Regions from separate parts of the Homo sapiens genome. Here region 2 is linked to region 1. Evidence: fine-mapped expression QTL. A gene starts in region 1. The other region holds a variant in brackets. All regions are shown on one strand. Distances are from middle to middle.

Region 1 (15,972 bases):
TTCCCAATATCTCTCTTTTAGAGCATTTGAAAATAAACATCAATTCTTTCATTCATTCACTCAATCTCTATATGAAGAGAGAGAAAGCCAAACTTTGCCTTAGCTAGCTTGGGTTACAGTCACTTTAGACTTCTCTTATAGGTTAACTGATAATATTCTTTGAAAGAGTTATTCTCATGAGAAAGGAAGAGAATAAAAAACTATTTCTGCAGGTGACAAGACTGCATGCCCAAGAAGTCCCAAGGAACCATTATCATGAATACAATCATCCTAGAATAAAAAACCATCAAATTCAAAATTTACAAGAGTAGAGTAATCTTCTACATTCAGTAATACCCAGCCAGAAAACATACTGAAGAGAGTGTATTTGCAATAAAAACGAAATGCATAACATTTTCGGAAATACATAGGAGTAAGTGCAACAACAGATATGTAAGAACTTTATCATGAAAACCACAAAAGTCCTTGAAAAAGTACAGAATTTTTTTTTTTGACAGAGAGTTGAACAGAAGTGTAGAAGTGACACACACACATAAATCCAACAGGATAATCTTACCCTGACAGATTACTAGACTCTATCAAAAAGTAACAATATTTAAAATAGTATGGAAATGGAAAACTGTATCAGTGACACACAATGAAGAGTTCAGATATAGATCCAATATACACACATATATGTCTATGTGTATATACATGTGTATATTATATATAATATATATATAAACTTATTATATGGCAAAATAAGCTGTCCAAAACAAAGGAAAAGAGAATTACTTAACAAAGTTGTAGACAACAATAGTAAGTTGAATTCACCTCTTGCACCAAAAGTGATATTGATGAAAGTGTTAACTATTAAAAAATTAAATTAGGCCAGGCGCCATGGCTCATGCCTGTAATCCCAGCACTTTGGGAGGCCGAGGTGGGCAGATAACCTGAGGTCGGCAGTTCGAGACCAACCTGACCAAGATGGAGAAACCCTATCTCTACCAAAAATACAAAATTAGCTGGGTGTGGTGGTGCATGCCTGTAATCCCAGCTACGCAAGAGGCTGAGGCAGGAGAACCGCTTGAACCCAGGAGGTGGTGAGCCGAGTGCACACCACTGCACTCCAGCCCGGGCAACAAGAGTGAAACTCCGTCTCAAAAAAAAAAAAAAAAAAAAAATCAAATTTGTAAGAAAACCAGTGGGAAACAGATTTATCAGGTCTGTGGAGGAATTATAAATTTCTCAGCTTTGGGGAGAAAAAGAGAAAAAAATCACAAAAGACTGGCAGAGCCTAATAAAGTGTAAAACAGTAAAGTAAAATGAATTGACTGGGAAAAATATCTGGATCAAAGATGACAGACTAGATTCTAACATCTAAGACCCACAAAGATTCCAAATTTATAGGAAAAACAAGAAGACCCCAGTAATAAATGGGCAAAGAGTGGGAAGAGACAGTCTCCCAGGTGAAACAAACACATGGGAATATATTTATCCCAGCCAGTGGTAAAAGAGATGCAAAATAACACAACTTTGGTACCTTAAATGACCACTAAAGTGGCAAAGATTTTCTAAATTCTCACATAAAATTTGTTCACTCTGTGCTGGTCCCACTATAATTTGGTACAGCACCTCTGCAAACCATAACCTTTGCTATAATGCCACCTTGAGACTTTATCCTAAGGAACTGATTTTTAAAAAATATGTATGGTAATGACATGTGACTTATATTTCAGTAAAGCTGTTACTCAAAAATGCATTATTTCATTATTATCTATAATAACAAAAAGCTGAACACTACATGTAAGTTTAATAGTAGAGGGATGTTCTTTAATCTCATTATGCGACAGCCCACAAACATTTACTATGTACCTATTCTGTTAGGATCAGTAAGATAGCAATTATATGTGCAACTGAAAAGGTTTTTAAATGAAAATAATTGTCTAGAGGTGATGGTATTATGGCTTTTTATGTTTTTAAAAACGTTATTTAATGTTGTCATAATGTACTAGAAAGAACTACTTTTTAAAAAATGGGTGGAATAGGGGGCAATCTGAAAGCTCTTATTCCCCCAATTCCCTACATGTTTTTTCCTTCCTATTTAACAGTTTAAGTGGTTCAGAAAAGTTTTTCATTCACAGGTCTCAGACCCTACCAAAAACAGGCCAAATTGCAATACCATGTCTTGTACACATCCTGGACAGACTCCAGCCTCCTGCCTCAAGCAGGCCCCCTTTTTCGTGTCGCTCTGCCTATATGAAGTCATAAACTATGGCTGAACACTGGGACCGAGGGCTTCTCTTAAGGTCCGAGCCCTGAAGCTTAACAACCTTTAGAAAAGGGTAGGGAGGATGAAAGATGAAAGTCCACAAAAATTTATGATAGACCACTTAAGGAACCTGAGTCCTAGACCTGGACTCAAGGAATCGTCCAAAGCACCGTACCAGACTGGCTCCTCTGGGGCGAAGGAACCGGGGCAGCTAAACCTCTGCAAAAACACACAATCGAAAGCTGTAGGGAGTGCCTAAGATGGCTAATTGTGAGGAGCGGCCCACCCGGGAGGGTGCCTACTGAGGGATGCTCTCGGGAGGCTGCCTCAGATGGAGGCCTTGGGGAGGAGGGGCAAAGGGGTCCCCGAGAGTGCTCGGGAAAGGGTGTAGGCGGAGGTCAGGTGTAGGCCTAGAAACTCGGGGTGCGACACGACCCTGGGCCGACCAGGCCGCGGCGCCCCGCCCTTTCCCGGGACGCGGGGCCGGCTCGGGGCGGGGAGCGGGCGGGCGAGCGGACGCTTACAGGTCGGTGCCGAGCCGCGTGAAGCCGGAGTTGAGCGAGGCCCGGGCTATCCGGCGCCAGAGCAGATCGCAGCTGGTGAAGCGCCGCAGCCAGCGGCACACCTGGGCCAGGCGGCCGAGGGCCCGCATGTCCAGGTAGGAGCAGATGAGCAGCAGCAGCTCCTCCGGCAGGCGCCAGAGCGCAGGCCCCGCGGCCGGGCGGGCAGCCGACTCCCGAGCCGCCTCCTCCTCCTCCTCCTCCTCCCCGGCCGCCGCCGCCATGGCCACCCCTGTCCCCGCGATGTCGGCCCAAGCCTGACCCCCTCGTCCCTGTGCTCTTCCCGGCCTGGCGCCCTCCCGCCGCCTAGCCCTGACCCTCCATTCCTCCTTCTTCCCATACTCTCTTCCTTGTGCCTCCTTCCCGGCCCCTGCGCTCCCCTCGACTCCCTTGACGATGCCTCTCGCCCCTTCCTCCACGCTTCTGCCTCCCTCTGCTTCCTCCCTTGGGCATGCCCTCGCTCCCGCGTCAGCCCCCGGCCCGGCTGCCTCCTTCGCCGTCTGCGGCCCGGGCTTCCCTTCCGCCCCGCTTCCTCTTCCGCCTTGCCCCGCTCTCGCTTTTCCCTTCCCCTTCCCCTTCCTTCGCTTCCCCCTCGCCACCCTCCCTTCCTGCAGCTTCCTCGCCTCTCCGCCCTCGCCCTCGCCGGGCCCGCCGTTCCCGGGGGGCCCCGAGCGGCCCTGGCTGCCCATGAGCGGCCGCGGGGCCGGCCCGACGCGGAGCCCAGCCCGAGCCGCCACCGCCGCCGCCCCGGGAGGAGGCGACACCATGTCGGACCGGGTCACATGGGGCGGCGCGGGCCGAGCCCTGGGCACGCCCCTCACACCTGCAGCCTTGGAGCCACTTCGGGGTGCGGGCTGGGGCCGGGGCGCTGACACCACCCCCGCATCCCCGAGAGCGCTTGGTGGAAGCACAGGAGTTCGCGCTGCAAACACGTGAGGCCGGTTTCAGGGCCCTGCCTGAGGCCACAAGAGGACCCGCTGCCCTCAGGAAGCGGCCATTTGGAGCACCTGCCCTCAAGAAGCCCCTAGTTGGGTGGCCTTGCCCCTCTAGAAGCCCTCCTCTTCCTCGAGTGATGCCTCCTTTCCACGGGCCACATGTGAGGGCCCAACGAATCTGCAGCCCTAGAAGTTGACAGGTTCCATAGCTTAGGTTCTCACACAGGCCCGGAAGCACGGTCCTGGCGTGAGCTTGGGTGTTAGACGTATTTGGGGATTTGCAGTCTTCTAGATCCTGAGTCCATAACTTCAAAAACAGTCATGTATCAGGAAATGGCACAGCTAGGGCTTCTTATCAGTCACCACCCAAGTGCAAGTGGATTCTCCAAGGACTCAGCATCCATTCTTCATACCACCCATTCGATTCACATGGCATTAATCTGAAGGGAGAGCTACTGAGGTCTAGACCTGTGCTGTCCAACAGTGTCCTCCCTCGTCACATGTGGCTGCTGAGCATTTGAAATGTGGCTAATACAAATTGAAATGAGCTATAAGTGAGAAATGCACACCAGATTTTGAAGCCATACAAAAAAAAGAATGCAAAATATCTCATTAATAATTTTATATTGATTACGTGTTGAAGTGTTAATATTTTGGATACGCTGTATTGGGCTAAATACAATATATTTTAATGTAACTACTAGAAAATTTAAAATTATACATGGGACTTGCATTTGTGGCTCGGGTTATTTTTCTATTAGCATTGGGCTAGGCAGTAAAACTTGGAGGAGGGGAGGAAGATGCCAATTTCTGTCTGTTTATCCTGTACTCCAAATCCAGGTAGGAAGGATTGGAGAGTTTTCTTTTGTACTTATCTACATCTTAACACTCATTTTCAGGGAGCAGGGAAGAATAAAAATTGACCCTGAAAATTATTCAACACCTAGCATAGCCAAAGAGAAACCTAGGGAAGCAACTACATTGTATTATGGTGCTGCAAGAAGCATCATGTAACAAGGTCAGACCGGAATCTGGCTTTGCCCTAGAATTACTTTTTGATCTTAGCAAAACAACAACAAAAAGCCCCACCTATCTTGGCCTTTTAGTGTTCTCAATCTGTAGTGGAGATAATGCCTCTGCCTTACTTTCGAGGGATAAATGAGATGATCCCTGTAAAATGCTTTGAACTCCTCTAAGAAAATTCTTAATAATAGTTACAGGTCAAATCCTGTTACAAAAAAATGCCATCCCTCCCCCTCTCCAAATGCAACAAAGACTTTGTGTAGAAAACGATTTCCAAACTCAAGGCAGTGGTTTATTGAAAGCACTATTTTATAGATTTCAATGCGGCCAAAGAATTTAAGCCATGTTTTAGAGATCATTATAAAGAAATTTACTTATTCACAGGTACCATACTGTTAGAAGACTACTAAGGCAGGAATACTTCACATTTAGGTGATGTCATGAGTTCAATATTTATTGATTTTGCTACATTTGTGTACTATGAGCGAATCAAGAAGGAAGACAAATGATATAGCAGGAATATGGTTCCTGCATTTTGTGTTTAGATTTGTGTTAGAGATGTTTGTAATTTCTTACTGTTTGAGTACTTAACTCATTCAGGATACATAGTAAAGCTGAGTAGTTCATCTATATTCTATCTCATTTTTAGTGGAGGCACTAAAACTTCTTTAACCCAACATAAATCAGGATTAAAATCCATAATCATGCAAGTGTAATTTACTTTATTTTCATTAATGGAGAATTTTTTTTTGAGACAGAGTCTGGCTCTGTCGCCCAGGCTGGAGTGCAGTGGCGCAATCTCGGCTCACTGCAAGCTCCACCACCCGGGTTCACGCCATTCTCCTGCCTCAGCCTCCCGAGTAGCTGGGACTACAGGCGCCCGCCACTATGCCCGGCTAATTGTTTTGTATTTTTAGTAGAGACGGGGTTTCACAGTGTTAGCCAGGATGGCCTCGATCTCCTGACCTCGTGATCCGCCTGTCTCGGCCTCCCAAAGTGCTGGGATTACAGGCATGAGCCACCTTGCCCGGCCTTTTTCTTTTTTTTTTTTTTTTGAGACGAAGTCTCACTCTGTTGCCCAGGCTGGAGTGCAGTGGCGCGATCTCGGCTCACTGCAAGCTCCGCCTTCCGGGTTCACGCCATTCTCCTGCCTCAGCCTCCCGAGTAGCTGGGACTACAGGCACCCGCCACCACGCCCAGCTAATTTTTTGTATTTTTAGTAGAGACGGGGTTTCACCATGTTAGCCAGGATGGTCTCGATCTCCTGACCTCGTGATCCGCCCGCCTCAGCCTCCCAAAGTGCTGGGATTACAGGAGTGAGCCACTGCCCCCGGCCCTCATTAATGGAGAAATTAAAGCATCATTTAGCGGTCATCATTAAAGCGGCCGGGCGCATCATTAAAGCGGCCGGGCGCGGTGGCTCACGCCTGTAATCCTAGCACTTTGGGAGGCCGAGGCGGGCAGATTGCCTGAGCTCAGGAGTTCAAAACCAGCCTGGACAACACTGTGAAAACCCGTCTCTACTAAAAAATACAAAAAAATTAGCCGGGCGTGGCGACAGGCGCCAGCTACTGGGAAGGCTGAGGAAGGAGAATTGCTTGAACTCGGGAGGCGGAGCTTGCAGTGAACCGAGATCGCGCTACTGCACTCCAGCCTGGGTGAGAGAAAAAAAAAAAAAAAACATCAAATCATCCTCTTTCACATTCAAACTAGAGATCAGGTAAACTCTTAGCCTAGAATTTGTAATGTAATGATTTCCAAAAAAGTCAACATACTCACTATGCAGGAAAAAAAGCAAAGCCAAAATGGAAAATTGGCATATAATCTGTTATTTGGTGGTGATGTGTGTCCCTAAATTACCAAACATGTGATAAAGAAAACAACAAAGAAGAAAACCTTTAGCCTTAGCTCAGAGAAGCAGCTAGAATATTTCATCAACTCTCCCTTTCCCTGCCAACAAAGAAAAATCCAATTTGGGATGTAACCAAACTTAAAAATTGTATCATAAAATTTACTTTTAAAATTCTTTTTTGGGATAGAGTGTCAAAAATAAAAAAGCAACTGAAAAGATGTGGCTGAAAAGATGAGTTTGTAATAAAAGTAAATGCATGTCTTCATGAAGGACCTGAATAGCATTTTTCTATCAAAGAAAATAAATATATTAATACTCAGAAAAGAGGAAGGTAGAAAGACTTTGGTGGACTTGACCATCTTTTTTTTTTTGAGGCAGAGTCTCACTCTGTTGCCCAGGCTGTAGTGCAATGGCGAGATCTCGGCTCACTGAAACCTCCGCCTCCTGGGTTCAAGTGATTCTCCTGCCTCAGCTTCCTGTGTAGCTGGGATTACAGGCACCTGCCACCACGACCAGCTAATTTTTGTATTTTTAGTACAGACGAGGTTTCACCATGCTGGCCAGGCTGGTCTTGAACTACCAATCTCAGACCATCCACCCGCCTTGGCCTCTGAAAGTGCTGGGATTACAGGCATGAACCACCCCGCCCGGCCCAGAACATCTTTAAGTAAAAGTCATCAACTCCCTTGAAGTTCAGATTCAGGAATCATCATGAAATAAGGCAGGGAGGTGAAATCTACCTTTGTTTTCATAAAGCTTTTTTATTTAAAAAATTAATTTATAGATTAATAAACTGAAAACAGTGGACACAATATTGGCTGGGTGTGGTGGCTCATGCCTGTAATCCCAGCACTTTGGGAGACCGAGGCAGGCAGATCACCTGAGGTCAGGCTTGTCTGCCTGGCCAACATGGTGAAACCCTGTCTCTACTAAAAGTACAAAATTAGCCAGGCGTGGTGCCGCACACCTGTAGTCCCAGCTACTAAGGAGGCTGAGGCCAGAGAATCATTTAAACCTAGGAGGCGGAGGTTGCAGTGAGCTGAGATTGCACCACTTCACATCAGCCTGAGTGACAGAGCGAGATTCCATCTCAAAAACGAACAAACAAAAAAAAAAACTTAAGACATAATATAAATTTCATAATTTTGTGGGTATTTAGAAACACTAACATTAATTTACCTTTTTTTTTTTTTTAGACAGCGTCTCACTCTGTCACCTAGGCTGGAGTGCAGTAGCATGATCTTGGCTCACTGCAGCCTTGACCTCCTGGGCTCAAGCAATCCTCCCATTTCAGCCCCAGAGCAGCTGGGCCTACAGGTGCCTGGCTAATTTTTTTATTTCATTGACAAGGTCTCACCATGTTACCCAGGCTAATAGTTTACTTTTAAAGAGGATTTTAAAGCAGAGATATAAAGTTCTTTATGTTAGTGTGTACATGTAAGTGACATGCATGATGGTGATTGTTGCTGTTATTGGTAGCACATAGTATATGTTTAGGATTGTAAAAAGGCTAGAATTTTGTATTCTGGTCATTCTTATAAACAGATGACAGAATCACCTATTCACACATTCATTACATTGGTGCCCACATACTCATTGGTTATACCCTCAGGGCCCCTCAGGAGCTGGTAGATTTAACAGGAAAATTATTCTGAGATGAATGAGAGACAAAGAGATTATTTTGTGAGTGACAGATTTCAATATCATACGTGGGCCCAGATGCTCACCATTATTCCTCTATAATAGCATTGGCTTACATTTACTATAAGCACTTACTACATGCCAGCCACTATTAGAAGAGTTTTCCAGCCAGCCACGGTGGCTCACACCTGTAATCCTGGCACTTTGGAAGCCTGAGGTAGGAGGATTGTTTTTGAGCCCAGGAGTTCAAGACCAGCCTCCAGGAGTTCAAGACCAGCCTGGGCAACACTGGAAGATCCTGTCTCTACAAAAGAATTTTAAAAAATTAGCCGGGCTTGGTGACACACATCTGTGGTCCCAGCTACTTCGGAGGCTGAAGTGGGAGGACCAGTTGAGCCTGGGAGGTCAAGGCTGCAGTGAGCCATGATCACACCAAGGCACTCCAGCATGGGCAACAGAGCAAGACCCTGTCTCAAAAAAAAAAAAAAAAAAAAGTTAATTATGTAGACTTTCAAACTCTTAATGCTTTTCATAATCTTTTTTCAAAACTTCAAAGGGATTGTTAGGAACTAAAGTGTCTTGCAAAAGAACATTTAGCTAAAATTTGGTAATTCCTTCATTTTGTTTCAGCTTCATTTTCTTCAATTTCTTCATTTTGCTTCATCCTCATTTAGTAACTATGTATGGTATGTGTGAGCCTTTTGTGTAAATTTATCTCTCTGTGTATATATGCAAAGGGAAGGTTTGTGGAATAATGTTAATAATGGTTTTTTTAGGTGATAGAATTTTGGGATTTTACTTTGTACTTTTCTGTATTAATTTTTTAATAAGAAGCATGTACAAAATAAAGTCTTTAAAAAAATAAGAGTTGTCATGAGTCTATACACCATGCAAAAAGGAATTTGATGATTTGAAACCTAGATCATTGCCAGAGTTTTAACCAGCTACCCAAGTTTCCTCAAACCTTATTTAAATAAGGCTGGGTATGGTGACTCATCCCTGTAATCCCAGCACTTTGGGAGGCTGAGGCAGGAAGATTGCTTGAGCCCAGGAGTTCAAGACCAGCCTGGGCAACACAGCGAGACCCCCGTCTCTAAAAACTGTAAGAATAAATTAGGTAGGTGTGGTGGTGTATACCTGTAGTCCCAGCTACTCGTGAAGCTGAAGCTAGAGGATTACTTGAGCCCAAAAAGTTGAGGCTGCAGTGAGCCATGTTCATGCCACTGCACTCCAAACTGGGCAACAGAATGAGACCTTGTCTCAAAAAACACTAAAACTTTAAAAATTAAAATAAAATGTGTTTCATGTAATAGTAAAATAAACAACAAGTTAAAAGTCTTAGAAAGGAAAAGAAACAAGAAGTCTCACAGTGAATGCTGTATTTGTAAATATTCAAGCTTCTCAAAAATAGAGGAAGAGACTCTAAAATGTTATTTTCAGAAATTATCTATTGGGTTGGTAGTTTATATCTTGAAGTACCACCAAGATCTGCTCTGGTTTTATATGAATCCATCTTCTTTGCCATATTCAAAGATAAAATATTTTTACCACCTATGAAATAATTTCAAGCAAGTGCTATTTAAAAATAGTTATTTTGGCCAGGCGCGATGGCTCATGCCTGTAATCCCAGCACTTTGGGAGGCCGAGGCGGGTGGATCACAAGGTCAAGAGATCAAGACCATCCTGGCCAACATGGTGAAACCCCGTCTCTACTAAAAATACAAAAATTAGCTGGGCATGGTGGTGCACGCCTGTAGTCCCAGCTACTCAGGAGGCTGAGGCAGGAGAATCCCTTGAACCTGGGAGGTGGAGGTTGTAGAGAACCGAGATTGTGCCACGGCACTCCAGCCTGGTGACAGAGTGAAACTCTGTCTCAAAAAAATAAATAAATAGAAATAAAAATAGTTATTTTATGCAGAAGAAAAAAAACTGGAAGGAAATATGACAAAAAGCTAGAAATGGTTGCTTGTGACAGATGGAATTATGGGTAGTTCTATTTGCTGCTGCTTTATACTTTTCTTGCATTTTTAAAGTCTTGTGCAGTGAGTATGTATTACATAGATAATCATTTTTTAAAAGAAAAAAACCTCAGAGGTATTTACACCTAAATGTAAGAAAGAACTTAATTAAGCTAGTTCATTTTAATATTTTTAAGGAAGGGCTGCATATAGTGACTTTCTTTCAAAGAGTACAATATGGAAAAGGGGGATGGGGAGAGCAACTCGACAGTGGAGAAGCCTGACAAGAACTACCTCAGCCAGGTGATCAAGGTCAGCACCACTAGTCATAAGTCATATTGATAGTAGGTCTTGGTACAATCTGATGAAAATGGCAAGTTCATTAAAACTGGGAAAGCTGAGAAACTGTCACAGCCAAGAAGAGCCACAGGAGACATGATGACTAAAGGTAATGTATTCTGGATGGGATCCTGGAACAGAAAAGAAAAAGGACATTAGATAAAAACTAAGGAAATTGGATCGGTTTGTTAATAATAACAATCATAATATTGTAAAATGTGATAATAGGGGTCTATGGAAACGCTCTACTATCTTCACAATATTTCTGTAAATCTAAAACTGTTCTAAAAAAGTTTTTTAAAGTTTCATCTTAGAATGGGCGTGGTGGCTCATACCTGTAATCCCAGCACGTTGTGGGGCTGAGGAGGGCATATCACTTGAGGTCAGGAGTTCAAAACCACCCTGGCCAACATGGTGAAACCCCATCTCTACAAAAAATACAAAAATTAGCCAGGTGTGGTAGTGGGCACCTGTAATCCCAGCTACTCAGGAGGCTGAGGCTGGAGGATTACTGGAGCCCAGGAGTTGGAGGTTACATGAGCTATGATCCCGCCACTATGCTCCAGCCTGGACAACAGCTGTAAGATGTTTTCCAAAGGGTCACATAACATCATTCCAAGACACTGTCCTAATTTTATAACTGAGAAAAACAGACATTTCCCATCACTAATTTTTATATAAATTATATATGTGTATGCATTTAAATATATGGTATGTAAATGTATAGCTATGTCTACAAAAGTTAAGGACCATATGTCTATAATGAACAGTAGAGTAAGTAAGGAGGTGGGCAGGTGGGCAGGATAGAAATATACAATGTAATTTTTCTGGGGGGAAAAAAAACAGATCTCCAGGGGTTTTGCCAGTTAGTAATGCTGTTATTAGTAGGCAATGGCCTTCTTTGTGTCAACAGTGTACATTCCAAGAGATTTTGAATAAAATATAGAGCATACCATCAGCATTCAGATCTAAGATTAAATTCTTGTATTGCCATTGCCATGTGACATCAGATTTTGTGATTTTTCTAAGCCGGGCGTGGTGACTCACACCTGTAATCCAAGCACTTTGGGAGGCCAAGGCAGGCAGATCACTTGAGGTCAGGAGTTTGAGACCAGCCTGGCCAACATGGTGAAACCCCGTCTCTACTAAAAATATAAAAATTATCTGGGCATGGTGATAGGCGCCTGTAATTCCAGCTACTCAGGAGGCTGAGGCAGGAGAATCGCTTGACCCTTGGGAGGTGGAGGTTGCAGTGAGTTGAGATCATGCCACTGCACTCCAGCCTGGGAGACAGACCTTCTCCAAAAAAAAAAAAAAAAAAAAAGGTTTTGTGATTTTTCTGGTCTCTGCCAGTCAGAAGACTGAGTCATTTGGTAACAGATGATAGAAGATAAAAAAAAACTTGAAGATGAAGGGAACCACAAAACCTTGTGAAATTTTCATGATCACTGGGGATTTCTTACCTTGCCTTCAGATTCTAGGTTCTTTTTAAAAGTATAAGTAAATAATCAGTCACCACTAAGATAGAATATGTACAAATATGACCTTATGAGTTCTTTTCCAAGAAAATAATGAGAATTAAGTTCTAGAAAAAATTTGCTCCCAAGCATCTTTAGTTTTTCTGGAAGAAAGTGCCAGGTTAAATACAAAATTCTTATTTCTGATTCTATTGTTATTACTACTATTTAACAATGCCAAAGTTTAAGTAAATTTTTTTCATTTGAGACATTTATTACACTGAATGAAACCACAGGATATCATTTATTTATATTGTCCTAGGTTTCAAGTCCTGTTAAAAATGTGGAAAAAAATGTGAAAAACACACAGGACAACTTTTCTGGAGTATCATTCATACAGTATCTTCAACAGATGGTGGATTGTGTTAAGTTGTTAAATATAAACACAAGTTTTAATGTGAATGGAATAAGAATAGATCTTAATTTTTTTGTTTTTTACTTTAGTAAAAAATGTATACACACATACTCAAAAACAACACACACACACATATGTATATATATATATATAAAATACACACACACCCACCCACCAAGTAAAGAGCAATTATAGTCTTTGGACCAAAATTTAACTGTTATCCTTTGAGAAACTATGTCACTGCTTCTAAAAATATGTACTATAAAATGTGCCTTTTCCCCTTTCTTATAGCAGCTGTTTGAAATACAAATAGATGAATGAGGAAAATCCCCTATGTTTAAAATCCACCATGAAGAGAAAAGCAGGAAGAAGTTCAAGCTAGCCCCTGGGGATTTTCCCAGGTTCAGTAGATTGACCTGGAAACAAGGAGTGCAGCTTGAGCTCTTCTTCCTTTAGCAGAACAAGCACTGGTCAGAGAAATTTCCAAACACATGGAGCTTAGCGAGACCACCTGCTCCTAACACAGGACAATGGCCACTGGACCACCAACTCTGTTGCTTCAAGTCAACACCAGCTCTCCTTCACAACAGATGACAGGCTTTCCGCTAGAAGAGTTTCCCAGTAAAAGAGTGAGCAAAGAAATGCTAAACTTCACATCTGCAATAGAAGCTGATAAATGAGAAGTGAAATGGACAAATTAAAAAGCTGAAACTGAATTCAGTCTTATAGTAGAATCAAACAATAATTACATCGATATCAGCCCTGGCAAGACAGAGCTAAGAGCTCAAATTATCTCTTGGCAAGGGTGTGGGTCTGTAAATGCTATGCAGCAACTAATGAGTAGAGAGGAATTTTTGACCAGGTGCTCATGCATTCCCTACACTGCACCAAGCTCAGCAGATATGTGGCACAACCCAGCACCTTTATAATCTCTCAAGATCTCCATCTCTGGCCGGGCTCGGTGACTCACACCTGTAACCCCAGCACTTTGGGAGGCCAAGGCGGGTGGATCACCTGAGGTCAGGGGTTCAAGACCAGCCTGACCAGCAAGGTGAAACCCCATCTCTACTAAAAATACAAAAATTAGGCCGGGTGCGGTAGCTTATGCCTGTAATCCCAGCACTTTAGGAGGTCGAGGTGGGTGGATCATGAGGTCAGGAGTTCGAGACCAGCCTGGCCAAGATGGTGAAACCCCATCTCTACTAAAAGATACAAAAATTAGCCAGGTGCGGTGGTGAGCGCCTGTAATCCCAGCTACTTGGGAGACTGAGGCAGGAGAATCGCTTGAACCAGGGAGGCGGAGTCTGCAGTGAGCTGAGATCACGCCACTGCACTCTAGCCTGGGCGACAGAGTAAGACTCCATCTCAAAAATAAACAAAAATCAAAAATTAGCTGGGCATGGTGGCAGGCTCCTGTAGTCCCAGCTACTTGGAAGGCTGAGACAGGAGAATTGCTTAAACCCGGAAGGCGGAGGTTGCAGTGAGTCTACATCACACCACTGTACTCCAGCCTGGGCAATGGAACGAGACTAAATCTCAAAAAACAAACAAACAAACAAACAAAAGAAACCTCCATCTCTTGGACCATACAACAATAGGAGAGGAACCACAATGGTCAGACCCAATAGCTTGCTTAACTCCTGTAAAAGAATTGAGGTCAACCAGATGTTGCAATTTTTCTGATTTGAGTCTTTAGTCACGTATGAGATAGCATGTTGGAGTTTAATTAAAGATGTGTAAAGTAATAATATTTAATGATATTTTGCAGGGGTAAGAGAATTAAAGTTAATATCAGCTATTAGAAGAAAGTTATTGATGCTATGTGTGTCTTATGTTAGCCCACATAAGAAATAAATGAACAACAGAATTTTAAGTGTTTAAGCAGTTATGTCATGACCCAATCTAAGTGGGATCTATGAGGAGACTGAGAAGAAGTAATTGAAAGTCTTGGGCTCCACATGGTGGCTCACATCTATAATCCCAGCCCTTTGAGAGGCCAAGGCGGGTGGATCACTTGAGCCCAGGAGTTCAAGACTAGCCCGGGCAACATGGCAAAACCCCATCTCTACTAAAAATACAAAAATTAGGCCGGGCACGGTAGCTCACACCTGTAATCCCAGCATTTTGGGAGGCCGAGGCAGGTAGATCACGAGGTCAAGAGATCAAGACCATCCTGACCAACATGGTGAAACCCAGTCTCTACTAAAAATACAAAAATCAGCTGGGCATGGTGGTGCACGCCTGTAGTCCCAGCTACTCGGGAGGCTGAGGCAGGAAAATCGCTTGAACCCAGGAAGTGGATTGCAGTGAGCCGAGATCGGGCCACTGCACTCCAGCCAGGTGACAGAGCGAGACTCTGTCTCAAAAAAAAAAAAAATTCAAACATTAGCTGGGCATGGTGGCCCAAGCCTGTAGTCCCAGCTACTTGGGAGGCTAAGGTAGGAGGATTGTCTGAGCCTGAGAGGCAGAAGTTACAGTGAGCAGAGATGGTGTCATTGCCCTCCAGCGTGGGTGACAGAGTGAGATCCTGTCTCAAAAAATAAAAATAAAAAAAAAGTCTTGGTATCATACAGCTTTCACAATGCTGGTTTTTAAAAACTATAAACCCACATCACTCTTGGCAATTTTTTGAAGTTTTAAAACATTTAGAAAATAAAATTTAAATTATTTTTCAGTAGTCTTCCATGTTATAAATAAAATCACATATTCAACAGTATCCAAGATAGAGTCATAGAAACAACCTGAGAAGGAACAAGACACTGACAGAGAATAGAAGTGTTGGGAACAAATGTCTCCCAAACTGTTTAAATAAATCATGGAATATCCGTAGAACAGAATAATAAGCAGCTGTGAAAAAAATGAGAAAGACTGTATGTATCACTAGAGAAGGATCTCTAATATACAGTAAGTGAAGAAAAAAACAAAATTCAGAACAGTGTGTATAATATATTGCCATTTGTGGAGGGGAAAACTGTATTTGTGTGCTTTGACTCATGTACACCAAATATCTCCATAAAGATACACAAAAACCTAGTACCAGTGTTTGCCTGTAAGGAGGGGAATTTGGGTGGATGGGAGACAGAATTTCTTGTCAATTGTATACTATTTTATGCCTTTTAAATGTTTATTAACTATTTGCATGTATTACCTATTGAAAAGCGTTTCATCTCTAAGGGGACTCTCCAAAAAGTGAAAGGGCATTTTTAGAGCATGTTTTGGGTAAATGGAAGAGTCCATAATGAAAGAAATTGCCCTTATTTTGCAATAGAGAGCTACAGTGCAGAAGGGAGAGTGGGGATTTGCAATGTGTTAACTGGGATATCTGAAGGTAGATCAAAATTAATACCCAGATTGTGAAAATAGGATAATTATTGACAGAAGGAAACAGAACAAAATTCATTCATTGCATTTAAGTAAGCAATGATATGTTAGGAAATGGACTAAACAGGAAGAAAATACTATAACTCAACCAAAAATTATAAAAAGAACAAAAAATTATGGAATAAAGCTTCAGCATGTTGTAACATCACAGTATAATGAA
Region 2 (15,972 bases), 26 kb after region 1:
TGGCGCATGCTTGTAATCCCAGCTACACGGGATGCTGAGGAGGGAGAATCACTCAAACCCGGGAGGCGGAGGTTGCAGTGAGCTGAGATTGTGCCGCTGCACTCCAGCCTGGGTAACAGAGCAAGACCCTGTCTCAAAATAAATAAATAAATAAATAAATAAACAAACAATGGCCTAAACTGTGACTAACGTAATGTTAACATTTTTCTGCATCATTAAGTGTTCTTCAGGGCTGGGCGCGGTGGCTTTAGCCTGTGATCCCAGCACTTTGGGAAGCTGAGGCGGGGGATCACCTGAGGTCAGGAGTTTGAGACCAGCCTGACCAACATGGAGAAACCTCATCTCTACTAAAAATACAAAAATTAGCCGGCCATGGTGGTGCACGCCTGTAATCCCAGCTACTCAAGAGGCTGAGGCAGGAGAATCGCTTGAACCGGGGAGGCAGAGGTTGCAGTGAGCTGAGATGGCGCCATTGCACTCCAACCTGGGCAAAAATAGCGAAATTCTGTCTCAAAACAAAAAAAAAATGTTCTTCAACAATGTCATTTTATTGGCTGTGCAGCATTCCACTGGATAAGATGTACCATAACTTACTCAACCAATTCCCTATTATTAGAAACTTAGGTGTTTCCAAATGTTTGGCATTATAAGAGTGCTGCATATTCACATTTTAGACTTTGCTTTACATTTGCTTATAAATTCCTAACAGTGATATTGCTGCGTCATCGCACATAAACTTTTTTAAAGTTTTGAAATCAATGTCCATTTTAAAATGAAGTTTAAAAGAGGGATGGGAGGACAGAAGGAATTGCTACTGCTGTTACATGCTTAACACCCAAGCAAACATCTATTGAATCAGCTGAGAAATTCCCACACACAATGTAAAGAGTGAGCATTGTCTGTTAGTCCTCCAACAATTTGTCTTTCACCATTGACCTACATTGAAACCTTCAGCTTAGGAAAAGAATGTAGGAGCCTCTTAATGGAAGGCTAGATTCAGTGGTACTTGGGGTGCTAAAATAGTCTGTGTGTGAGTACTTTCATCTCTGCAGTTCACTACTGGATCCAGGACCAATCTAAATCCTTCTTACTTTGTCCACTACTGAAATATGATGCTATCTCTGTGCTGGAAGTTGCAGAAGTATTTAAGAGTACCCAAGAATAACACAATTGAGAAAATAAACTGAAAAATAAGTTCAATAGGAGGAAACATCCCAGAATAAATGACAGGGTAGTAGCTTTCTCCTTTTGGAACTAATATTTTTTTTTTTTTGAGACGGAGTCTCCCTCTGTCACCCGGGCTGGAGTATAGTGGTGCGATCTCGGCTCAATGCAACCTCTGTCTCCCGGGTTCAAGTGATTCTCCCGCCTCAGCCTCCCAAGTAGCTGGGACTACAGGCATGCACTGGGACTACAGGAGTGCGCCACCACACCCCGCTAATTTTTGTATCTTTAGTGAAGACGGGGTTTTGCCATTTTGGCAAGGCTGGTCTCAAACTCCTGACCTCAAATGATCCACCAGCCTCCACCTCTGCCTCCCAGAGTGCTGGGATTTCAGGTGTGAGCCACCATGCCCGGCCCAGAACTAATTATTAATTGGTATAGCTTATGCCCTGACAAAGCCTTAGACCTGGGAATCCTGAACAAACTTCAGTTATGTCCTTCTATTACTCAGAAAGCTTGAGCCACCCAAGGGCTTCCTGGTCAATCCAAACCGTCTTGCCTAGCACTCAGTATTCTGGTTTCCCCTGACCTCTCTGCATCCTGACTGCCCCAGCATGAAGCCTTCCATTCCATCCAAACTGACCTATTTCCTTTTTGCCAAACAAGCAGCATATATTCTGGAAAAATCTTTGGACTTGGAGTTAGACTATGTGGATTTGAACCCTGGGTCTGCCATTGCTTTATTAGGACCCTGGGGAAAATACTGAATCTTGCTGAGCTTCGGTTTCTTCATTTGTAAAATAGGGATAACAAAGCCTAATTTGTTGTACTATTATGTATATGTTAAACTGGACAACAGAATGTAAAAGAAGCTAGCACAATGTCAGATATATACTGAGTGTTTGATAGGTAACACAAAGGTCTTGTTTGGCCTCTGAACTTTGCTCCAAACTGTTCTCTTTCTGGAAAAGTCTTCTTTTATCTGAATCCTGCCCATCCATCAAAGCAGATATGTTTTATCCCTCTTGAAAGCCTTCCCACACCAGTCCTAAGCACTCCCTGGCTATTCCGTTGATTTGGCATTGGTCAGTACTACCTAGTATTGGTTATACTTTTTTACAGTGTATTTTTCTTCTCCAAGTGACCTGTCAAGGAGCCAAACTTTCTACTATCTATTTTTTTTTTTAAAGACGGATTCTCGCACTGTCACGCGGGCTGGAGTGCAATGGCAGATCTTGGCTGACTACAACCTCCAACTCCCGGATTCAAACGATTCCCTGCCTCAGCCTCCCAAGTGCCTGGGATGACAGGCACGCGCCACCATGACCGGCTAATTTTTTGTATTTTTAGTAGAGACGGGGTTTCACTATGTTGGCCAGGCTGGTCTCGAACTCCTGACCTCGTGATCCGCCCGCCTCAGCCTCCCAAAGTGGTAGGATTACAGGCGTGAGCCACCGCTCCCGGCTAACTATCTACTATCTACTATTTCTTCCCCCAACCCCACTTTTCCACCTCCGTATCAAGAATGTTTCCCACATAGGAAATGCTAAGTATTTATGTATTTATTTATTTTTGAGACGGAGTCTCACTCTATTGCTCAGGCTTGAGTGCAGTGGTGTGATCTCAGCTCACTGCAATCTGCCTCCCAGATTCAAGGGATTCTCCTGCCTCAGGCTCCCAAGTAGCTGAGATTACAGAAGCACACCACCACACCTGGCTTGTTTTTGTATTTTTAGTAGAGACAGGGTTTCACCATGTTGGCCAGGCTAGTCTCAGACTCCTGACCTCAAGTGATCTGCCTGCCTCGGCCTCCCAAATTGCTGGGATTACTGGCGTGAGCCACTGTGCGGGCCCTAAGTATTTATGCTGACCCTTTTCACTTTCCCTGTGCTTCATGACCTGCCTGTGTCAGTAGGTCCATAAGGCTTGCATCAGTCCTTCTAAGTGGACTCTCTCCTGAGGCAGTTTTCAGAGAGCCCTGATATCAGTTTGTCCCAACAATAATTAAAATGAATGCACAGCACCTCCTAGCTTACAACAGTAGCCTGTAAAGTTAACAGAAAGGATATTATTATTCTCATCATCCCTATTTCTCGAAGACTAAGAAAGGTCAAGTGATTTGTCCAAGGACACAAGGCTAATGTACAGGAAAACTGGAAACTGAACTCAGATCTACTGCTTGCAAAGTTCATGCTCATGGCCTCACATCATAAAACCTCCTTCTGTATTTAACTGTTCATGAACATTTGTTAGTCTCTAAAGTAGTATTATGGTTGAATTTGAGGTCCTTGCCTAAGAAGAAAATGCCGGTGTTCTTGGGTATAGTAACCACCTAAAGAAACCTCTTCAGTGTTTTTGGAGGCATGAAAGGAACAAAAACAATATGCCAGTTCTTGGGGGAAACGCTCCAGGTGAGAAACTTGTGTAAATTATTTTCTTGGGGCCCAGAATGACACCTGGGCATTTGGTAAGAAGGTACCCTTTCCCCTACACCTTAATTAATTGTGACTCAGAGCAGATCTTTTAGAAATGGTTCCCCTGCTACACTTATTATCTCTTTGGTGACCTTCTGTCCCTACCCCTTAAGGCTCAGGGACTTCTCCTCCAAGCCGTGGCTCTGGCATGCCAGGAGGTGTCCCCCTGTGGTCACCATGAACTAGACTCCCTCCAGCAAAGGGCACAACTCTCACCACAGCTCAAGGGCATCTTGGAGTACAGCTGTACACAATCCAAAAGAATCACAGGTGATTCTGATTAGAAGAGATTCTGAGGGACATCCTATCACTACTCGGTTCTCTAGCACACCCGCATACCTCCCAGCTACACATTTCATCCTGACAGCTCAGCAGACATTCTTCAGACTTAGGGAAGGTGTGAATCCACAGATAGTTCACCTGCAATCCAAGGCAGAACCATGTCTCTCAGCTTCCTTGGTCACTGAGTAAGCAACACCCTTTTTGTACAGAGTATAGCTCTACCCTTTGTCTCATTAAAAACTATTAGAAGCCAGCCTGGCATGGTGGTTCAGGCTGCAATCCCAGCACTTTTTTGGGAGGCCAATGTGGGAGGAATGCATGAGGCCAGGAGTTGAAGGCCAGCCTGGGCAATATGGCGAGACCCTATCTCTAAAAAAAAATTATTTTCTTTTCTTTACTTTGTGTGTGTGTTTCATTTTTTGTTTTTGTTTTTGTTTTGAGGCAGGGTCTCGCTCTGTCACCCAAGCTGAAGTACAGTGGCATGATCACAGCTCTCTGTAATCTCAACCTCCTAGGCTAAAGCAATCCTCCCACCTTAGCTTCCTGAGTAGCTGGGACTACAGGCATGTGCCATCATACCCAGCTAATTTTTTATTTTTTTAGTGATGAGATCTTGCTATGTTGCCCAGGCTAGTCTTGAACCCCTGGGCTCAAGCAATCCTCCTGCCTTGCCCCACCAAAGAAGTGCTGGGATTACAGGCTGAGCCACCATGCCAGGCCAAAAGTGTCTTAAAAACAAACAAACAAACAACTCTTGGAAGCCAAATGAATCCTGACTTAGCTGTTACTGTAGATTCTGTTGATAACAGTTGCTTAAACTCAACTCTGTCCCCACCATCACACACTTGGATGCTAAGATCAAAGTTGCCTAGTTACTTCCAGATTCGTTCAATATGCATTTATTGAACACTACTTCCTAGGTAACTTGCCAGGCACTTGAGTAAAAGGGTGAATCTTCTCATTTTTTTCTCATCCCACAGAAAGTCCTACTTTCTCACAACCAATAAGCCTCATATCAACAGCAAACTCCAAGTTGCACAGAGACTATCACATTTGCAATCTTCTTGTTTTTCTGAAACAAGCATTGGCATAAACAGTAACAGCAATGACTTAGGCCATGCTCTTGCCTATAATCCTAGCACTTTGGGAGGCCAAGGCAGGAGGATTGCTTGAGCTCAGGAGTTTGGGACAAGCCTGGGCAACATAGTGAGACCCCCATCTCTATTTAAAAAAATAAAAATAAAAAACAAAAACCTTATTTATACTCTAATTATTCTGGGCCAAAAATGGGAGTTTGAACTCAATTCATATACTGTTTTTGTAGATTGTTACATGTAACCCTAGGTATCATATTTACCAGGTGTCTATTTCCCCATCTTTTTTTTTGAGACAGGGTTTGTCACCCAGGTTGGAGTGCAGTGGTGCAATCTCAGCTCACTGCAACATCTGCCTCCTGGACTTCAGCAATCCTCTCACCTCAGCCTCCTGAGTAACTGGGACCACAGTTACGCACCACCACACCCAGCTAATTTTGTATTTTTTTGTAGAGGTGAGGTGTCACCATGTTGCCCAGGCTGGTTTCAAACTCCTAGGCTCAAGCCATCTGCCCATTTCAGCCTCCTGAAGTGCTAGGATGACAGGCATGAGCCACCTCGCCCAGCGTGCCCACCTCATTTGGTGAAACACCCTCTCTCTCTCACTGTGCTATTGCTATTAATTTTCCCACACCCTCCATTCTGTCTCAAACACTAAGAGTTCAAACATCTCTTCTCCAGTGATCTTAACCTTGGACTTAGAATTTTCCCCTGTTTCTTAACAGTACCTCTCCTCCCTGGCTGTTCTTTAGCATAACATCAATTCAGTCAAATGAAATAAACAAACATTTACAGAGTGAAGGGGAGGGAAAGATGGGAAGGGGACAGCTGTGATTACTGACCCATCCTGCCCCAGCTTTCCCTCACTAGGAGTAGTTTTGGGTACAAACTCAGAATGGCAGTTAAGAAGAAAAAAGCCTTGTTTTTTATGCTTTCCTAAAGACCAGCAAGGAACAATTGGAATTTGAAATGTAAAAAAAATACCATTTACAATAGCACCAACAAAAATCAAAACAAAACAAAAACCACTTAGGCCCAAATCTAACAAAATAAATACAGGATCTATATGAGAAAAACTACATAACACTGGTGAAGAAAATCAGAGATCTAAATAAATGGAGAGAGAGTCCATGTTACAAGATCAATATACAAAAGCCAGTTTCTGTCATATACTAAATACCAGCAATGAACAATTGGGATTTGAATTTTATTTTATTTATTATTATTATTATTTTGAGACAGGGTCTTGCTCTGTCACCCAGGATGGAGTGCAGTGGCATGATCATAGCTCAATGCAGGCCCCACCTCCTGAGCTCAAACAATCCTCACCTCAGCCTCACAAGTAGCTAGGACTACAGGTGCATGCCACCATGCCTGGCTCATTGGGAAAAATTTTTTTTTTTTTTTATAGAGATGGGGTCTTGTTATGTTGCCCAGGCTGGTCTTGAACACCTGAGCTCAAGGGATTCCTCCTGTTTTGGCCTCCCAAAGTGGAATTAGAGGTGTGAGCCACTGTGCCTGGCTGGGATTTGAAATTTAAAAAAAAAAAGATAACATTTATAAGCCTTATTTCTTGGCGTCATGTGGTTCAAGTGAACACCTTAGCTTGGTGATTTGCAGTTTCAACTTGACTGTGCCCTTTAACCAGAAATCCTGGGGTTGTTGAGACCTTTCCATGTAGTAGCCCAGATCTCATCTTCAATTTTGAGTCAAAATGGATTTTTGAGCGGTCCTAATAGTCACTGGATTCCTCTGAGGTACTATTTGTTGACATTTTTTTTTCTCCAAGCCTCTTTCATTTAGGCAGCCAAATTTTCCTCAGAGACTTCCATTCCTCATTTTCAAACCTTCCTGCCTCTTTTGCTTCCAGCTGGTTCCTGAACTTCGGTCTGACATTTCCAACAGTACCTCCAGCCTACAGCAAGTGTCCTGCCTTTGTGGCCTGTTTCCCGGCCATTGTCTGGCTTCTCTGTTCTTCATTCCCCTTTATCTCTACTCCTTCCCTCCTCCTCCCCAGTGCACAGGTCAGGCATTCAAGGGTGGACGTATCATGGACAACTCTGATTTGAGTTGTTTTCTCTGAAACAAATATTTGCATATGTGACCCTCCCCCACCCCGCCATTTACCATATGGCTTTTCCTCCATCTCAGCCAGAGGAACTCTCAAATTCATATATGTTTTTGGAAATGAAGTTTTCCCCAGATGGTCTCTCCAAAGCACCAAAGCAAGGTCAGAGTTTGTGCATTCCTTCAAAGGTTCTGGGCAGGAGTTAGAATTACTCGTGTTTTCTTACTCCCATCAGCAGTTATTTTGTCAGTGCACCTGATAATGGGACAAAACCTGAGTCTTTCTTAGCTAAAAACACACCAGTGTTTGAGGGAGATGTTGAACCATAAACTGGTGTCCCCAGGGAAAGGAGAGAAACCTGCTCAGTTGCTCAAATAATTTCAAACCAAAGCCCCTGAGGATACTTCCACAGGGAGAGAAAAAGAGTATGAATATTAGAAAGATGATGAGCCAGGTGTGCTGAAAAGTTTTCTTAGTCATTCTTAACCCTAGAAGGGGATGGGGGCAGCCCCACATCTCTACTGGGAAACATACTTCCC[C/T]TTTTAAATCAGGAAAGAAGAAAACAACAACATAGCCCCAAATAGAGAATGTTTTCTTTTGTAACTGGAAGCAAACATTGCTGATGGCTTTAACAGCTGTCTGCCAACGTGGCCTGAGCAGCAGGCAAGCTCAAACATTTTCTGAGATCAACATATGTACAGACGTACAGTATATTAGGTCAAATTATAAATCCAGGAATAAAAGAACAAATAAGTTTCGGCTTTCTCTAGGCTTCTGCATCCAACACCAGCTAAATTAGCCTCTGAAGCAGAGGAATCTGGATTCCAAATAGGCAGGTCTTCCAAAAGTTCAAGTCAAACCTCCCTCTGGTAGGAAAAGAAGGTGCCGTTGTAGATTAACTTGCTGATGACTGACCAGGTCCGGGCTGCTGGGCCCAGCCTAGCCAAGGCTTCCCTGTGTCTTAGCCCAGCAGACTCTGAGGATCTGCGTGCGGCAGGTTAACGTTAAGCCTGCCATTGACTTGATCTTTGACCCCAGTAAATCATTTAATATGCAGTGTGCCTTTGTCCATATGTTAATGTTTTGTGTAATTCGGATGAGAATTCCAGCAAGTCTGGGTGTGCCACCCATTAGGACTAAAGCTTTCCCTTTGGAGCTTCTAGGAGGAACCTTCTGGATAGCTACATTGCAGAAAGCTGAAGTACCTCGATGAACCTAATTGAAATGCCTGCAGATGGTGAGACCAGCCTTGCCTGAACTGTGACTGAGAAGTAAAAGAATGAATTTTTTCCTTTGTTATCAAAACTGACACAAAACTTTTAGTTTTGCCTTAGGGCAAGAAACCCACCAGAATGTAATAGGCAGGAGAATACTGGCTTCCACCACTCTACTAGTTATGGGACCTTGAACAAGTCACATTGGCTAAGCTTCCATAGATGTTAGTGGGTCATGAAATCAATGAAATAGATTGGAACTAAAAAAAAAATTTTTTCGAGATGGAGTCTTGCTCTGTTGCCCAGGCTGGAGTGCAGCGGCTCAATCTCGGCTCACTGCAACCTCCACCTCCTGGGTTCAAGCGATTCTCCTGCCTCAGCCTTCCGGAAGCTGGGATTACAGATTCCTGCCACCAAGCCCGGCTAATTTTTGTATTTTTAGTAGGGACAGGGTTTCACCATGTTGGCCAGGCTGGTCCGAACTCCTGACCTTAGGTGATCTGCCCTCCTCAGCCTCCCAGAGTGCTGGGATTACAGGTGTGAGCCATGGCGCCAGGCTCTAAAAAATGTTTTAATAAAATAAATTGAGTAGAATAGAAAATACCAGGGCTTAGTCCACAGTAAGGGGAAGTACACGTGTGTATGTATGATTCCTGGGGTCATAATGAACAATAAACGTTCTACTATAGGTAACTAACAAAAAGTTTTCAAGCCAGTGGCTTAGCCCAGTGGTCCCCAACCTTTTTGGCACCAGGAACAGGTTTCACGGAAGACAGTTTTTCCTTGGATGGGGTGGAGGAGCCGGTTTTGGGATTAAACTGTTCCACCTCAGATCATTAGTTAGATTCTCATAAGGAGTGGGCAACCTAGATCCGTCACACGCACAGTTCACAATGGGGATCGCATTCCTACGAGAATCTAATGCCGCCACTGATCTGATGGGAGGTACACCTCAGGCAGTTATGCCTGATGTTCACCTCCTGCTGTGCAGCCAGGTTCCTAACAGGCCATGGACTGGTACCAGTCCATGGCCTAGGGGGTTGGGGACCCCTGGCTGAGACCATAGAGCTTCGATCTCCTAGTCTATTTGTTGGAAATAATTCATTTTATATGCATACATAGATATACATACATATACAAATACACACACATCTAATGAGCACCTACTCTGTGTCAGGCACAGTGAGGGGTGTGTGAGGTATACAGGCATGACAAGGCCCTGTCCCCGTGGAGCACTGGCTAGTCAGGGAGCCTATCATAAAATACTGGCATAATGATTTCACTGCCATTGTGATTAGGGCCACAAAGAGACTTACAAAGGGAGAAGAGAGTATGTCGCAGGGTTCCTGACCTGGGCTGCAAGACCAGGGCCAGCCTTCCTGAGGAACGGACATAGAAGGAGGCAGAGAGTGATGCAGGCAAAGAACTGGGGGCATCCCCGGCTGAAGAACCAGCAAGTCTGAGCAGACCCTGAAGAAGGAGTAACCTGTGCTGGGCCTGCCCCAAAGGCTTCTGTGAGGATGACCAAGGGAGGTGACAGCCAGCAGAAACACAGTTTCTGTAAACTGTAGAGTGTTATTCAAATGTGACCTATTATTTAAAACAATGAATATAAACATGCCTTAAAGGTGAGCTTAGCCGGTGGATGGCTCATGCCTGTAATCCCAGCACCTGGGGAGGCCGAAGAGGGTGTATCACCTGAAGTCAGGAGTTCGAGACCAGCCTGGCCAACATGGTGAAACCCCATCTCTACTAAAAGTACAAAAAAAAATTAGCCAGGCGTGGGGGTGGGCGCCTGTAGTTCTGGCTACTCGGGAGGCTGAGGTAGGAGAATCTCTTGAACCTGGGAGGCAGAGGTTGCAGTGAGCCGAGATCGCACCACTGCACTCCAGCCTGAGCGACAGAGTGAGACTGTCTCAAAAAAAAAAAAAAAAAAAAAAAAAAAAGGTGAGTTTAAGCATCCTTTCAATGACTCTTTGCCGGATTCTGTTCTAGGTTCTGGGAATACAGCAGTCAGTAAGACAGACCCTCTGTCCTCCATAAACACAGAGAATGGTGACTTCAGACAGCGGTAAATGCTATGGTGAAATAGAAAATTTGGCAGAGGAATAGAGAATAATGGAGGCAGGGAAGGTTCTAGACAGGAAGGCAGGGCTCTCTAAGGGGGTGAAAACCAGATCTGAACAAACTACCTGTCACCCTCTGACAATGTGACCTTGGATACATCACCTAATCTTTCAAGACTCTCCTTTCACCTCATCTCACAGGACTCACCTGAGAATTAAATGAGATAAGAAATGGAAGCCCTCCTAATACAGGTTAGCGTGAATAATGTTAAACAGTGAATATTTAATAAATGCTAAATAATCGAGTGCTTTAATCAAGAACGAAAGTCAGAAGTTTTTTTTAACAGTCCGGGTGCAGTGGCTCATGCTTGTAATCCCAGCACTTTGGGATATGCATACATAGATTTACATACATATACAAAGGAGGCTGAGGCAGGGGATCACCCGAGGTCGGGAGTTCGAGACCAGCCTGACCAACATGGAGAAACCTCATCTCTACTAAAAATACAAAAATTGGCAGGGCATGGTGGCGCATGCCTGTAATCCCAGCTACTCGGGAGGCTAAGGCAGGAGAATTGCTTGAACTCGGAAGGCAGAGGTCGAGGTGAGCCGAGATGGTGCCACTGCACTCCAGCCTGGGCAATAAGAGTGAAACTCCAACTCAAAAAAAAAAAAAAGAGAGAGAGAGAGAAAGATGTAGAATGACAAGAAGGAGAAATTAGGCCTTCTATTTTCAGACAGGCTGGACAAATCCTGCAGAAGGAGTCATTATTGAACTTTGTGTCAGTTGGGTCCTCTGGGCAGCAGATGCAGAGACAAAATAAGATTTTGGTGGTTGGGGGCAGTAACCCCTGTGAAAGACAAATGAGGAAGGAAGCAGAATTGGATAGGAAAAGCCTCAAACCATGATGTAGCATGTATCAGAATTTCCTTCCTTTTAAAGGCTGAATAATATTCCATTGTATGAATATATCCCATTTTATTTATCTATTCATCCATCGATGGACATGTGGGTCACTCTCACCTTCTGGCTATTGTAGATGATGCTGCTATGGTCATGGGTGTACAAATGGCTGCTTGTTACCCTGCTTCCAATTTGTTTGTGTATATACCCAGAAGTGGAATTGCTAGGTCACATGGTACCCATATGGCTATTTTTTATTTTTTGAGGGATAAATAAATAAAATACTATTTTCCATAGCATCTAATATATACCATGTTAAATTCCCACCAACAGTGCACAAGGGCTCCAATTCCTCCACATGCTCACCAACACTTGTTATTTTCTGGGTGTATTAGTGCCTTCTCACGCTGCTATAAAGAACTGCCCAAGACTGGGTAATTTATTAAGGAAAGAGGTTTAATTGACTTACAGTTCTGCAGGGCTGGGGAGGCCTCAGGAAACTTACAATCATGGTGAAAGGGGAAGCAAATATGTCCTTCTTCACATGGCAGCAGCAAGTAGAAGTCCTGAGCAAAGGGTTAAAGTCCCTTATATTAATAAAACCATCAGCCGGGCGTGGTGGCTCACGCATTTTGTAATCCCAGCACTTTGGGAGGCCGAGGCGGGTGGATCACGAGGTCAGGAGACACAGACCATCCTGGCTAACACAGTGAAACCCTGTCTCTACTAAAAATAAAATAAAATAAAATTAGCCGGGCGTAATGGCGGGCGCCTGTAGTCCCAGCTACTCAGGAGGCTGAGGCAGGAGAATGGCATGAACCCGGAAGACAGAGCTTGCAGTGAGCCGAGATTGCGCCACTGCACTCCAGTCTGGGCGACAGAGCGAGACTCCGTCTCAAAAAAAAAAAAAAAAAAACCATCAGATCTCGCGAGAACTCACTCACTATCACGAGAACAGCATGGGGGTAACCGCCCCCATGATTCAATTACCTCCCGCCGGGTCCCTCCCATGATACATGGAGATTATGAGAACTACAATTCAAGATTAAATTTGGATGGGGACATAGCCAAACCATATCACTGAGTTGTTTGTTTGCTTGTTTGTTTGTTAAATAGTAACCACTCTAGCCAGGCTGGCATGCAGTGGCACAATCATAGCTCACTGGGCTCAAGCAATCCACCCGTCTCAGCTTCCCAAGTAGCTGGTACTATAGGCATGTGCCTCCAGGCCCTGCTAATATATTCTTTGTAGACATGGGGTCTTGGTATGTTGCCCAGGCTGGTCTCAAACTTCTGGTCTCGTCCTTGTGCCTTGGCCTTTCAAGGTATTAAGATTACAGGTGTGAGCCACTGCGCTTGGCCTTGAGCATCTTTTTATGTGCTTACTGGCCACTTGAATATCTTCTTTGGAGAAATGTCTATTCAAGTCCTTTGCCCATTTTTTTTTTTTTTTTTTTTGAGACAGAGTGTCACTCTGTCACCCAGGCTGGAGTGCAATGGCACAATCTTGGCTCTCTGAAATCTCCGCCTCCTGGGTTAAAGTAATTCTTCTGTCTCAGCCTCCCGAGTAGCTGGGACTACAGGCGCGTGCCACCACACCCACTAATTTTTGTATTTTTAGTACAGATGGGGTTTCACCATATTGGCCAGGCTGGTCTCGAACTAATGACCTAGTGATCCACCCACCTCAGCCTCCCAAAGTGCTGGGATTACAGGTGTGAGCCACCATGCCCAGCCCCTTTGCCCTTTTTTTTTTTTTTTTTTTGAGACAGAGTCTCATTCTGTTGCCCAGGCTGGAGTGCAGTGGCGCAATCTCGGCTCACCACAACCTCTGCCTCCCGGGTTCAAGCAATTCTCCTGCCTCAGCCTCCAGAGTAGCTGGGATTACAGGCGCACGCCACCATACCCAGCTAATTTTTGTATTTTTAGTAGAGACGGGGTTTCACCATATTGGCCAGGATGGTCTCAAACTCCTGACCTTGTGATCTGCCCGCCCCAGCCTCCCAAAGTGCTAGGATTACAGGTGTGAGCCACCACGCCTGGCTTTGCTTTGCCCATTTTTAAATTGAATTGTTTGTCTTTTTGTTGTTGAGTTATCACCTCAGGTGATCCGTCCCCCTCAGCCTCCCAAATCACCTCAGGTGATCCACCCGCCTCAGCCTCCCAGAGTGCTGGGATTACAAGTTTGAGCCACTGGGCATGGGCATGTGTCCTCATTTTGTAGATGAATCTCAGAGGGGGCAAGTAACTTGACAGAGCTACTAAGTGGCAGAGCTGAGTTGGATGCCAGGCAGTAAGCTCTACAGCTTGAACTTTTAACCACCCCGCGAACCCCTTTTTCTTCCCCAGATCTTCTCTGGCACTTTTAGCCTTCTAAAAAGTCACATATTGGCCAGGTGTGGTGGCTCATGCCTATAGTCCCAGCACTTTGGAAGGACAAGGCACTTTGGACTTTTGAGCCCAGGAGTTCAAGACCAGCTTGACCAACATAGCAAGGCCCATTCTCTCCCAAAAAAAAAAAAAATTATTAGGGCTTGGTGGCACATGCACCTATAGTCCCAGCTACCCAGGAGGCTGAGGCAGGAGGATCACTTGAGCCTAGGAGTTTAGGCTGCAGTGAGCTATGATCATATCACTGCACTCCAGCCTGGGTGACAGTGTAGGGCCCTGTCTCTAAAAAAATAAGTAAATAAGAAAATAAAAGTCACCTATTAACCTTTTAAAAAGTAAAAAGACAGTTTTCCCTATCATCCCAGGCCTCTAGAAAAATCATTCTCTTCTTTGGTCTTTATTTCAAGAACTTATTTCAACTTGCTAGGATTGCCTATAACACATTGTACTGTGGCTGCTTCCATGTGTGACTATCCATCTCCCTCCTCCCTAGCTCCAACCCTCCTCCCCTAGTAATAATAAACTGTGAGCTATTTGAGAGACTATATCTAAATATCCACATGGTGCAGCACCTAAGAGTGCAGGCTTAAGAGACCAGACTGACGGGGAAGAAGCCTTTTCTGCCACTTACTAGTTACATGACCTTGGGGTCTTTCCTTAATCTTTCTGAGCCTCTGTTTCTTTATCTGTAAAATGGGACTAATGATAGAACCAACACCTCACAAGGTTGTTGCAAGGATTAATGGAGATAACACATGTAAAACACTTAGGATAATGTTTAACACAAACTAAGAACATGATAAAAGTTGGCAAATACTCTATGCTGGAAAAAAATAAAACCAGAATAAACACTCATCCCACCACCAAGTGGAAGAAAAATTGTATGGTGTTTTGTTTTGTTTTGTTTTTTCCTAAGGCAGAGATGAGTAGGCTTCAGCCACTTGGTTTTTCTTCATTTAAAATGCAATATTGGCAGCATCACCTTCAGCCACAGTCGCTTATAGAAGGAAGGGATTGGTCAATAAGGGATGACCCAAGGGGGTACCAGAATCCCCAAATGACTTTCCCCTTCCTAAGGCTGAAGGCTCCGTGCTGCTTCTGCTTGGGCTCAGGCCATGCCAGTCCTCCTCCTCTTCCTTTCTTTTTTTTTTTCCCATCCCTCCCTCCCCACTTCAAACCCTGGGAAAAAAAAATGAAGAGAAGCACACCAACCAAGAAGCCTTTTCACTTCATTGTGTTTTCCAGCTAGACCTGAACAGACGGCGATCAATTCAACCCTCTCTCACCCTCCCTTCTCTCTTCTTCTCTCATGTCCTCTTTGTGTTTTTGTTTTTTTTTCTCTCAGGCTGTGTCTTCAGGCTTAGGAAAAAGCAGATACCTCCCAGTAGCATGAAGATGCAAGAAGCTGCAGTTGCCTGTAGCAAACACAACGTGATTGTAACAGGTCCCCATGGCCCTTGGTGCATGGAAAGGTGGACAAGCAGGGGATCCCGTTTGGATTCTCTGAGAAACTTCTCAGCTTGACCACGTCTGTCTCAAGGTTTGGCTGCAAGGAGTCACACAGAAAACCTTGCTTTCCTACTTCCTCTGGCCAGGAACCTTCTGAAGTTCGCTCCATCCCCAAGCAAAGAGTTTTCATTCCAAGCTTGAGCAAATCTGGCCCGTTGGACTTGAAATCAATGAGTATGAAGGAGGAATACACCTTTTCCCTTTTCAAAGCAGCCTAGTGGGATTTTATTTTTTTTCCAACAGGGTAACTCCAAATTGGCAGGGCTTTCAAAGCTACAAATTTCCATGTCCCCAGGCCTCACTGAAGAAAAATTTCCTGGTTAGGCTGGCATGTGTGGAAGTTTTAGGTGTGCAGCAGGTGAGAAATGCTGAACAAATAGTTAAACCTGAGCTATGAATCAAATTAGTCTAAACAAGATTCTCCCCTAACCCCATGCTGTACTAGTTACCCTCCTCAATTCCTACCCCAAACATATATTCAAAAATAGCTACTATTTGTCAAACACCCAGTAAGTACCAGGAACTGAGCTACATGTTTTATTTACTTACATTACTCATTTTATCTTCACAACTATGCAAGGTAGAAATTATTTATTGTTTCTTTTCTTTTCTTTCCTTTTCTTTTTTTGCTCTGTCTCCCAGGCTGGAGTGCAGTGGAGCAATCTTGGCTCACTGCAAGCTCCACCTCCCAGGTTCACGCCATTCTCCTGCCTCAGCCTCCCGAGTAGCTGGGACTACAGGCGCCCACCACCACGCCTGGCTAATAATTTTTGTGAGACGGGGTTTCACCATGTTAGCCAGGATGG

Alleles and levels. Positions count from the first base shown, and alleles are read on the strand shown. Sizes are in standard deviations (SD) of each study's normalised expression.
For the expression in putamen of the gene that starts at base 3,565 in region 1, C is the high allele of the variant in region 2 and T is the other (moderate effect, 0.46 SD a copy in GTEx).

What was found. PIP is the estimated chance that this variant, and not a neighbour inherited with it, causes the effect.
Region 2: its variant is fine-mapped to the expression of FBXW4 in putamen (GTEx, PIP above 0.99).

What each region holds. Positions count from the first base shown.
Region 1 is chr10:101,691,606-101,707,577 of GRCh38, forward strand. FBXW4 (F-box and WD repeat domain containing 4) reads right to left here and starts at 3,565. Exons shown (of 9, transcript NM_022039.4): 1 at 2,776-3,565. The coding sequence starts at 3,500. LINC03046 (long intergenic non-protein coding RNA 3046) reads right to left here. Exons shown (of 3, transcript NR_186546.1): 3 at 10,372-10,690. RefSeq lists an enhancer at 2,245-2,324 and silencers at 2,635-3,094, 3,375-3,424, 3,455-3,734.
Region 2 is chr10:101,717,982-101,733,953 of GRCh38, forward strand. It overlaps LINC03046 (long intergenic non-protein coding RNA 3046), which reads right to left and starts at 12,161. Exons shown (of 3, transcript NR_186546.1): 1 at 11,736-12,161. RefSeq lists enhancers at 5,265-5,984, 11,825-12,324. The variant C/T (reference allele first, on the strand shown) is at 7,622.